2 separate regions of the Homo sapiens genome follow, and region 1 is linked to region 2. The links come from fine-mapping of genetic effects on gene expression. A gene starts in region 2. The other region holds a variant in brackets. All regions are shown on one strand. Distances are from middle to middle. Region 1 overlaps CACNA1I (calcium voltage-gated channel subunit alpha1 I). Region 2 holds the start of CACNA1I (calcium voltage-gated channel subunit alpha1 I).

The links. PIP is the estimated chance that this variant, and not a neighbour inherited with it, causes the effect.
Region 1: its variant is fine-mapped to the expression of CACNA1I in whole blood (TOPMed, PIP 0.98).

What each region holds. Positions count from the first base shown.
Region 1 is chr22:39,659,132-39,664,351 of GRCh38, reverse strand. CACNA1I (calcium voltage-gated channel subunit alpha1 I) reads right to left here. Exons shown (of 37, transcript NM_021096.4): 13 at 4,802-4,919; 14 at 4,500-4,655; 15 at 3,915-4,008; 16 at 3,042-3,244; 17 at 1,917-2,387; 18 at 1,476-1,576; 19 at 511-634; 20 at 193-261. Among named protein-coding and RNA genes, the nearest start is that of CACNA1I, 91 kb to the right of the region's middle. RefSeq lists an enhancer at 35-564 and a silencer at 1,775-1,894. The variant T/A (reference allele first, on the strand shown) is at 1,964.
Region 2 is chr22:39,567,971-39,573,190 of GRCh38, reverse strand. It overlaps CACNA1I (calcium voltage-gated channel subunit alpha1 I), which reads right to left and starts at 2,438. Exons shown (of 37, transcript NM_021096.4): 1 at 2,203-2,438. The coding sequence starts at 2,438.

The DNA of each region.
Region 1 (5,220 bases), 91 kb before region 2:
AATGGGGACGGGGCTGACCCCCTCTGGGTCGCGGGAGCCCAGCCCCGGGGCTGGCACCCAGAGGGGTGGGCCATGGGGCTACGAGTGAAATGAAGCCGATGGCAGGCGAGTGACAAGCTGAGGCAGGGGCTGACCCAGGGCCAGGGGCCCGAGCTGGGGCTAGCAGGGGTCCCGGGTGAAACCGGGAGCTACCTTCAATGTCATCTCGCCCACGAAGATGGCCGTGAAGATGTAGTTGGACACGGTGAGAAAGATGCGTTCCTGAAAGCATCGGGAGATACCATAGGCTCAGGGGCTCCCAGAGCTGCCCGGCCACTGGCCAGCCGCTGCTTTGGCCAAGGTTCGTAGAGGAGAGGCTGCCACCTCTCAGTTCACGGAGGCTTTCCCCGCCCCAAAGGCAAACTTCCTGTCCTGCCTCCCCACCTCGGTGAGGTCTCCCTGCCCTGCTCAGCCCTGGCGAGCTGTCCCTTGGCCTGGCGCCTGCCCTGCCCAAAGGCTACAGCCACTCACGGTGCTGCCGGCCTCGATCTGAGGCCGCTCCAGGGCGATGGTGATGCAGTTGAGAAAGATGAAGGCCAGGACGACGTAGTCGAAGAGTTTGTGGGCAATAATGGTCTGACACAGGACCCGGAACCTGGGCAGGGTGGGCGGGGGCTGCCTGAGCGTCAGCTGCCTCCCACCCTGGCCAGAAGGAAGGCAGAGGGCCCAGGCAGCAGTGCAGACCACGCTGGCCTCGAGGAAGCAACCCCTATCCTCTCCTCTGGCCAGGTGCCGACTCTACACCTGCTCAGGGTGCCCACCTGGCGCTGCCTCCTCTGACCATACACCCACACCACGAGGTCACCCACCTTTCCCTGGCACTCGAGGCTTACCCAGCCCAGATCCCTGAGCCTGTCAGGAGGATACCACGCTGCCTAGTACCCTCTGCTTCTGCCCCAGGCCTTCCCTCAGGCTGCTCCCTGCCCCTGCACCAGGCTCCTCCTCTTCACAGCCCCTGATGTGCCTACTGGAATGCCACCTGCCTCCAGAGCCCAGCACAAAGGCCTCCTCCTCCAGGAAGCCTTCTGATGTCCCCTCAGATGCAAGCCATACAGGCTACTTGAGAATGGTTCAACCTGGTGCCCAGCACAGGGATGGCCTAGACTAGAGGAGAGCCCAGGAGAGCCTGGCCACCAACATCCGTCTTGCCTAAAGTCCTCGCCTAGCCCCAGAGGGAACCCTGATCCCCAGGGATCTTGGAAGCCAAGGCTGAGACTCTTCCCTGACCTCCTCCAGCCAATCCCACTCCCCAAATCCATCTTCACCCAGCAGCCCTCAGGAGGCTGCACTCTCCCCTGGAGACCCCCACCTCTGGGCCGGGAGGGTCCGCTGTGGTCTGGGAGAGCGCCACCAATGGCCTTGCCTGGCTTGGCAGAGATCCGTCCCTCCCACGTTACCCCTACTCTAACCCTCACCCCAGGCCTGGCCCTGCCCACCTGTTCTCGGGAGAGAAGAGGTAGACAGACCAGTCTTCGCGGACCTCGCACCAGTCGGGCTTATAGACGTCGATCATCTTGCGGACGCGGAAGCACAGGGTCTAGCAAGAGGAGGACGGAGCGCCGGGGGTCAGCGATGCGCAGGGTTGCCGGTCTCCGCCCATGCGGCCATCGCGCCAACTGGGGTCGCAGGGTCACCTCCGAACTCTCTGCCCCCCGGGGGCAGCCAGGGAGGGCTTCTCTCCCAGGAGCCGGCCCAGCTCAGGTGTGGGCAGTTCTGGCCCCACCCCTCCTGCCTCACACCTGAAGCCCTAGCCGCTCCGGCCACGCCCCGGCCACGCCCCCCGTGGGCCCGCCCGCTCGGGCCCCGCCTCCTGGGGCCGCACCCACTTCTGTCCTATCCCACCGCACCAGGTCCCCTTCGGCCCCGCCCCCACTCACGTAGTCGATTTCCTCCTCATCCTCCCCGCGATCCCCGCGGTCGCCCA[T/A]CTTGGTGAAGACGTCTTTGGCGATGCTGGGCATCCTGCCATTGCAGTCCTCATGCCCGGGGGCCGGGCCTGCCGCCCTCCAGGCGGCCCGGGGGTGGGCGCCCACCGCGGGCACCAGCTCGGCCAGGTCCACCGAGTCCCTGTTGTCGAGGGACAGCGTCCGGCGGTGGTGGCGGTGGCGGTGCGCCAGATGGGGCCCGTGATGAATGTGGTGGGCGTGTGGGGTGTGCAGGGGTGCGGCCCGCGGCGGCCCCTCGTCCGCGGCAACCTCGCAGACCCGGGCGCCGCCGCCGCGCTCCGCAGAGAGCAGGGACTCATGCTCCGCCGACGGCGGCTTGTGCTTGAGGCTGTTCCAGCTGGAGCGACGGCTGGCCCAGGCCGCGCTGCGGCCCCATGGCCCGTAGTAGGAGCTCCGGGAGCTGGACTGGAAGGAGTTCCCGTTCGGGTCAGCGCCCCACAGGCACACCCACGGCTGGGGCACCAGGTGCCCAAAGGCAGCCTGCACCCCCGCTGTGGCTCTAAGACCACCCACCTGGCCAGCGGGTGATGGAATGGGCTTGACCCTAGAGCTCCTCTCCCTGTCCCACCTCACTCCATCCACATCCACAGGGACATGGGGGCACATCCACCCGGAGGTTACATCCCCTCCTGCCACCTCACTTCCCTTGAGGAAGGTACAGCAAGTTAGGGCCATCTTCCCATTTTGCAGGTAAGGAAACTGAGGCTCAGAGAAGGGCAGTAATTTGCTCCTGGTCACACAGCTTGGAAGTGGCAGAAGGTGGATTCAAGCTGCAGTCTGCCTGACTCCAAAGCCCAGCTCTTTTTACCCTACACATTGTTGCTGAGATGAAAATCCAATTCTCTGCACCAGACCCCACTGGCACTAGGCCTTCATTCGTTCCTTATTGCCAGGTCCCACTCTGGCACTGGGCACCCAGGAATGCAACAGACATGGCCCCTGCCTGACTTTGGCTGGGCACCAGAGTCTGAGGCTAGACTGGCAGGTACCTCTCTTCAGGGCCCCTCCACACACACCCCAGCAGGAAGCGCCCGTCCAGAGCTCCCCACAAGGACTCACCAGGGAGCGCTGGTCATAGCTCATCCTCCCTAGAGACATGACACTGCTCTTTCGGGAGCCCAGGGCCACCAGCATGGGGTCCGGCTGCAGTGAGAGTCGGGGGGCAGGTCCCGCAGCCCCAGCAGGACCTAGGTGCCCACCCAGTGGGAGACTGGGGTCCAGGTGCCCATTGGGGGTCATGGGGATTGGGCAGAGCTTGGGATCTGGAGGAGTGAGATGGAGACAGAGGGAGGGACAGATGGCAGACAGGACAGAACAACAGCAAGGGAGCCACGAGACAGACAAACAAGGAAGGAGCAGAAATGGAGAGCTTTTCTAAGGAGGCTTCCTCTACCAGGAAGTCTTCCTGGTTGCACCCCATCACAGTGCCTCCCCTTCGCCCCACCTGCAGGGCTCTTAGCTTTATTTAGGTATGTGTGGACCCCTTGCCTTCTGTGCTCAGAACCAGCCTGACACCTCACTCCCATGCCCACTATGGGAAACAAGGCAGGGACTGTCCGCCCCAGTTACCGAGAAAGACACTGGGCTAGGGTTGGAGGATGCTTGTTCCAAGATGCCCAGTAGTGCCAGGCAGGACCAGAACCTACACCTTGACCTAAGGCCCCAAGGCTCTAACCAAGGGGCCCTGGTATGTGGAGGGATGTGGTGGGCTGCGGCTACCCCTGTGCCTAGAATCCCAGGGGTCCATGGATGTCACTGACCTCTTTTTGAGATTTCACATTTTTTCCAATTATGAACGTAAACAACAAACCATAGATAAGTAGCAGTCCCTGAGCCTGGGCTTGAGGTGGAGTCAGACGCTGTACCCTCTGCCCACCTGGATCTGTGGAGAAGGCTCTGGGCTCTCTAGGTGACAAGCGAGGGCCTGTTTACCTCCGCTGCTGTCCAGGCCTTCCTGGAGCTTATCAAACTCTTCTATGTTGGATGAGCTCTGGTCCTCGTCCGAGTAGGAGCGATTGGCGTCACCCTGGGAGAGCATCCGTCACGTTAGAATGCAGGTCAGTCCAGCTCCTCCCTTCCCAGCTCCCTCTAGAATTTTTCTATGGGTGTTTCCACCGCCATTTTGCAAATGGGAAAACTGAGGTTTGGAAAAGGGAAATGAGATGCTAACAAGAACCTAGGTCACAACCCTACATCTGCCTGACTGCAAGTATCCCCAGAGCCTCAGAGAACGGAGGGAGCAGGGCCCAGAGTCCCTAATCTTGGGGGATTTCGAATCTCAGAGATGGAGAAGCCTAGTCCTACATCCCTGGGGGGGAGCAGGGATGGCAGACGCAGTCTCCATTTGCATGCTTCCTATGATGAAGAGCTCACCACCTCATCAGCAACCCCCTCCTTTAGGGATAGGTTGCCTGCTAGAAGTTTGAATTGCAGCCCTCCCCCATCCAGGCCACCTCTCCCTCGCCCAGTCTTTCGCAGACCCTGTGGGGGTGCTTCCTCTGCCAAGACCACAGTCACCTCCGCCTGGAAGCCCTCCACCAGGATGGCCACCAGCAGGTTGAAGAGCACATAGTTGCCGAAGGTCATGAGGGCGACAAAGTAGAGGGAGGCCCAGGGAGAAGTGGAGGCCATGCCATTGTAGAGAACGACGTTCCAGTCCTCCTGGGTGAGGATCTGTTGGGGAGACACAGTTAGCCCTGGGGTACCCCTAGTCCAGGGCTAGGCTCTACAAGGAGGCATGGGAGTTGTCAGCCCCGCCCCTCCCAGGCCTACTGTCCCATCGCTTCCCCAGCAAACATGAACACGCAGCGGCCACTCACCTGGAACACAGTGACGATGGCCCACAGCAGGGAGTCGAAGTTCTTCCTGTCGGGCACCGTGTCTCCAGTGTCCGTGCGGAGGCTGAACTTGCAGCCAAAAATATGCATCCCAAGGATGCTGGGGAAAGGATGGAAGAGGCTCATCGGACTCACATGCACCAAACTGCCTACTCACCTTGTTTCATTCTCAGTCAACTCAGTAAAATGCAGGGCAGGGGGAGGCGGGGCAGCGTTGGTCCCATTTTACAGAGATGAACACTGAGGCTTAGGGGTTCATGCTTGCTGAAAGCCACAGGGGACTGAGGAACAGTGTCAGGCTTCACACCCAGGTCCAGGTGGCTTTGTCCAGAGAAGCACAGTGGACCACATCCCCCAGGCTCCCGCCCACAGCCCCAGCAGGTGCTGAGGTATGGCCCCCA
Region 2 (5,220 bases):
GTCCTCCTACCAGCCTTTCTCTTCCTAAAGGCCCAAAATTCCTGCGGCCGCCCCCTTCTCAGGCCTGGCACTCCTCTGTTCACATGCCACAAGCCCCTGAGGTTTCCCCAGTGCTTTGTATTAAAACTAGCCACGTAGGCTGGGCACAGTGGCTCACACCTGTAATCCCAGCACTTTGGGAGGCCGAGGCAGGCGGTTCACGAGTCAGGAGTTCGAGACCAGCCTGACCAACATGGTGAAACCCCATCTCTACTAAAAATACAAAAATTAGTAGGGCATGGCGGTGGGTGCCTGTAGTCCCAGCTACTCGGGAGGCTGAGGCAGGAGAATTGCTTGAACCTGGGAGGCGGAGGTTGCAGTGAGCCGAGATCGCGCCACTGCACTCCAGCCTGGGTGACAGAGCGAGACTCCATCTAAAAAAAAAAACTAGCCAAATGGGTGGTCCCTGCTTCCCTCTTCCCCGGGCACTCCCTGGGACAGACACCAGCTCTGCCTCTTTGTCCTCAGTGTCCCAGGGCAGATGTCAGTGAGTGCTGGGTGAACTAATTACCGAGCAGACCCTCTCACCAAGCCTGAGACGCTGTGAGCCGTCCCCCAGAAGGAGCAGGGAGGCTCTTAGCCCCCACCCAGCAAGGAACACCCAGTTCTGCATCCCACTCCAGCAGAGACCCGCTGGTTTCCAAAAGTTAGGGGGATCCAGGGCCCACGATCACCTCAGCCCCCTACAGAAGGGAAGCCTGGCAGTCCTGCAGCCAGTCTCAACATCCCAGCCTGCATCTGGCATCCCTGGATTCCAGGGCAGGACTCAGGCCTGCACCTGACCCACCAGCTCCCCGCACCCTGCCCTGTGTGGCCACAAGCACCAGAACCTCGAGCCACATATGGGCATTTTTTGGTGGGACCCTCAAACCACAAGGCCACCATGGCTTGGGTCCCCAAGCCTCCTCCTCAGTGGTCCCCAGCCCCCACTTCACCCTGCAAGCCAGTGCCACACAGTCCTTCCAGAGCACAGATCTCTCCAGACCCTGCTTCAAATCCTGCCCTTGGAGCACAGTCCCATCCCTCATGCAGCCTCCAAGGCCCTGCAGGGCTCCCGCCACACCTGCAGCCTCACCTCACTCCTCTCTGCCCCTCAGGGCTCCAACACTGCCTGCAACTCCTCCCTTCTCCAGGCTTCGCTCCTGCCATGCCCTCCTCCTGCCTCCCACTACCCTCTCTACCCAACCAACGCTCTTCCTTATTGAGGAGTCAGCTCTGGCATTGCCCATGTACACCCAGCAAACACTGCCAGAGCACCCACGATGTGCCAAGCACTGTGCCAGGTGCTAGGGTCCCCATCCCAGTCATCTGACAGTACCCCAGGGGAGGCAAATGTTAGATTCAGAATTCCACAGTTAGATGTGACAGTTAGATATGAAGCAGAGGAGGAATCCCAGAGGGCTTCCCTGAGGAGGTGATGCTTAAGCTGGGATTTTAAGGATGTAGCAAAGGATTTGGCCAGGTCCAGGGGGAAGGGAAAAGCTTTTCAGACAGGGGGAAGAGCCAGTGAGAGGACCCTGAGGCTCAGAAGAGCACAGGGGGGAAGCCAAGTGGTGGGAAGTGAGGCTGGGTGGAACACACAGGCCCTGATGGGTTGGATTAGGACTTTGCTCTGCACCTCCAGGACCATAGCAAATCATGACAGTCTTAAGCAGGGGGAACATGAGCCCACTGGAGGCAGCAAGTGGAGGCAGGAGGCCTGGGAAGAGGCTGCTCGGAGGCACAGTAAGGAGAATGAGTCCTGCCCTGTGTGTTGGGATCGGCTGCCCCGCTGCCCACGCCCACAGTTCCTGATCACGGCTCCCATCCTCTGTATGGTCACGGCCCATCAGGTGGCTCCAGAGTCTGACTGATCTGCATTCCCAGCCCAGCACAGGTCTGGGGCCCACACTCAAGGACTTTCTGAGCCAGCCAGCCACTGGACTGACCCCACAGCCACCAGCAACTTCCAGAACCTTCACATCAGCAGAACACCAGGTCCTCATCCATTTGAGGTCTCCCCAGACCCACCCTCTGAGCTCGCTCACCACCACCAAGGCCCAGTGGCCTCACCGCAGACCTCAGGTCTCCCAGCCGGAGCAAGGTGTGAGCAGCAGGACTCAATCCAGCCCCCCACCCTTCAGCCCCTGCAGGGCCCCGATCAGCCGAGGCTGCGGAGGATATGGGTTGCACACCATCTTGATGCACCAGTTCCGGGGGCTGGTGGTCTGTCGCAGGCAGAAGAAGGCAATAGGCGCCAGGTCTGGGTGTGGGACATGAGGATCAGCTCCATCCAGAGGCTCCTCCAGGCCTGGCGGGGAGGATGGGGGGCTCCGGGGTCCGGGCTGCTCCGTGGTGACTCCTGGCTCAGCGGCTGGGGCTGCTGCAGATGAGGAGGGCGGGGAGGCGCTCTCAGCCATGTCCACACTGAGCTGGGAGCCCTGGGGAAGACAGAGAGGGTGGCACGTGGTGGGGACAGGCCTGGTACATGCTCCCCAACCTGCCTCTCCACCAATAAGTGGACGGATGCAGCTCTGACAGCCCCACCTGAGCCCCACAGGCCCCTCACCCTCACTCTTGCATGAGGATTACGAAACAGCTGAGGGCCCAGCTGCACCCAACTTGGAATCTGCTTCCAAGCTGGGTGATCATGGGGCAAGTCTGCTCACCCTGGCTGAGCCTCAGTTTTGGCAAACGAAGATAGTGGGGAGAATAAAGCCTTCTTAGAATATAATTGTGATATTAACTCTTTTTTTTTTGTCTATTGGCAATTTTCTGTATTTGAAATCTTTCATTATTTAAGAGAAAAAATGTTTAAGTAATTATAGACAGAAAAGAAAGACGGAAGGGAGGGAGAGAGGGAGAGAGGGAGGGAGGGAGGGAAGAAAGGAAGGAAGGAAGGAAGGAAGGAAGGAAGGAAGGAAGGGATCTTAACTTTTTTACAAGACTAGAGCTATGTATTTATTGCACCATCAAAGGTAAAGAAAACTTGCAAGAAAAAAGAGGTGATTGTAAAGACAGACATTATTGCCAGGACAATGCAGGTTACAAAGGCAATGTTGGGGTGCTGCAGAATCAGAGACTGGGGGAACGCTGGCAAGCCAGGAGGGAATCACAGTTGGCTTCCCTGAGGAAGTAACCCCTGAGCTGAGACCTACAGCTGAGCCCTTGACCCAGGGACCTCCCAGCCACTGCCTTACAAGGCTGAGAACCCAGGAATCTTAGAGTCTAACCTCCTTGCCTTACAGATGAAGAAACCGAGGCCCAGAGAAGGGACAGGACAGACATGTAGCAGAGTAACAGCAGAAATAGAATTCCAGTCAAAGGCCAGGCACGTGACTCACACCTGTAATCCCAGCACTTTGGGAGGCCAAGGTGGGTGGATCACCTGAGGTCAGGAGTTTGAGGCCAACCTGGCCAACATAGTGAGACCTCATCTGTACTAAAAATACAAAAATTAGCTGGGTGTGGTGGCACACGCTGTAATCTCAGCTACTCGGGAAGCTGAGGCATGAGAATCACTTGAACCCGGGAGGTGGAGGTTGCAGTGAGCCAAGATCACACCACTGCATTCCAGCCTGGGCAACAGAGCAAGACTCTGTCACCAAAAAAAAAAAAAAAAAAGAATTCCGGTCAGAGCCCGCTTCCTGGGTCTGTGGCTCAGGCAGCTGCACAGGGCCCCGTGCTCAGAAGGGCCCTGAACTTGCTTTAGAATTCTTCTGTCACCAACATGAAATTCTTAATTGCTTATCAAGAGGTCCCACATTTTCATTTTGTTCTAGGTGATGCAAATCATCTTGCTGGCTCCGACTCCAACTCAAAGCACTTCTACTCCCTGGCCTTGTCTGATGCTCACAACAACCTCAGGAGGACTATTATGCCCATTTGGCAGGTGAAGAAACTGAGGCCAAGAGAACAAAGCGGGTTGTCAAGGCTATGCACCCAGCCAAGTGAAGCACTAGGTGGTGTTGAGAGGCCAGAATCCCAGCACCAGACCCCCAGGCGGGCTTCATGACAACTGATGGTGCCCTCGCTGGCCGAGAGCCTCCGCAACCAGTCAATGGCAAGATGGGACGGACAGCCACTCCCAGGGCCTGCCCCTCACCACCTCACCCCAAAGGGTACTAGTCCCTAAAACTTTGTCCACTGGGGTCCCTGGGATCCTAGAACCCCTACAGGGCCAGTCTGAGCCGTGGGATTGAGAGATGGGGTCCACGTCCCTGGTGCCCACCCAGCTGCTGCTGGGCTGTCGACCAAGCCACCCGGAGCTGATGCATTTGGACATTTCTCTGGCTCCCGGGGGCAACGGGCAGGGGTTGGCACCTCCTGCCACTTCCCCTGGCTGGTCAGGGAGGCGGAGTTTTCTCCTGAGCTCAGGGCTTTGCTCTTGATTCCAGAAAAACAGCCACGGGCCTTACATAAGCTCCCAGGCACCTTGGCCTGCCACGTGTCAACCTCCTGGGCTGAAACGCACCCTCCCTAGGGTGGTTCCAGCTCTGCCCACCACCGTGCCAGCCTCGGAGCCCACCACTCCCTCCCCTGGCCATTTGCTCTGGCCAGATTGGACCTCCTCAGGTCCTAGGCCCTGCTCCCGCTCTTCCCTCTCACTGGGGCACCTTCTCCTTCCGCCCAGGCCCTGTTCTCCCAGGCCCTACTGATTCATTCATTTGCCCAATGAGCACCTACTATGTGTGGGCACTGTGTGGGCTTCGGGCTATGCTGGGGCACGAGCCAGACTCAGCACCAGCCCCCATTCAGCCCACACTTCCGCAGAGGAGAGAGACACACCGATCAATTAATTTCTCTCTTTCTGCTTTTCCACAACTCTTATCACCATCAAACACGGTGCATAATTTATGTCTTTATATCTCCATGATTTGGTGTCTGTCTCCCCAGCCTAAGAGAAGCCTGTAAGGGAGGTGTATCCCCTCACTGCTGTATCCCCAGCACCTGGAATGGTGCCTGGAGCATACTAGGTGCTCAATCGATATTTGTTGACTCAGTGAATAAAAAGTGCTGGGAAGTAAATAAACAAGGGGAAAGGTGGGAGTGGAGACAATCATCTTGCCCTCTCTAAAGGAAGAGATGTTTAAGTGAAAACCAAGACGCGGGAGGCCGCAGCCCTGACTGATCTGCTGGAAGAGCACAGGAGGAAGAGCACGTGCGAAGGCCAGGAGAATGGGGCCCGCTCGGTGCATTTAA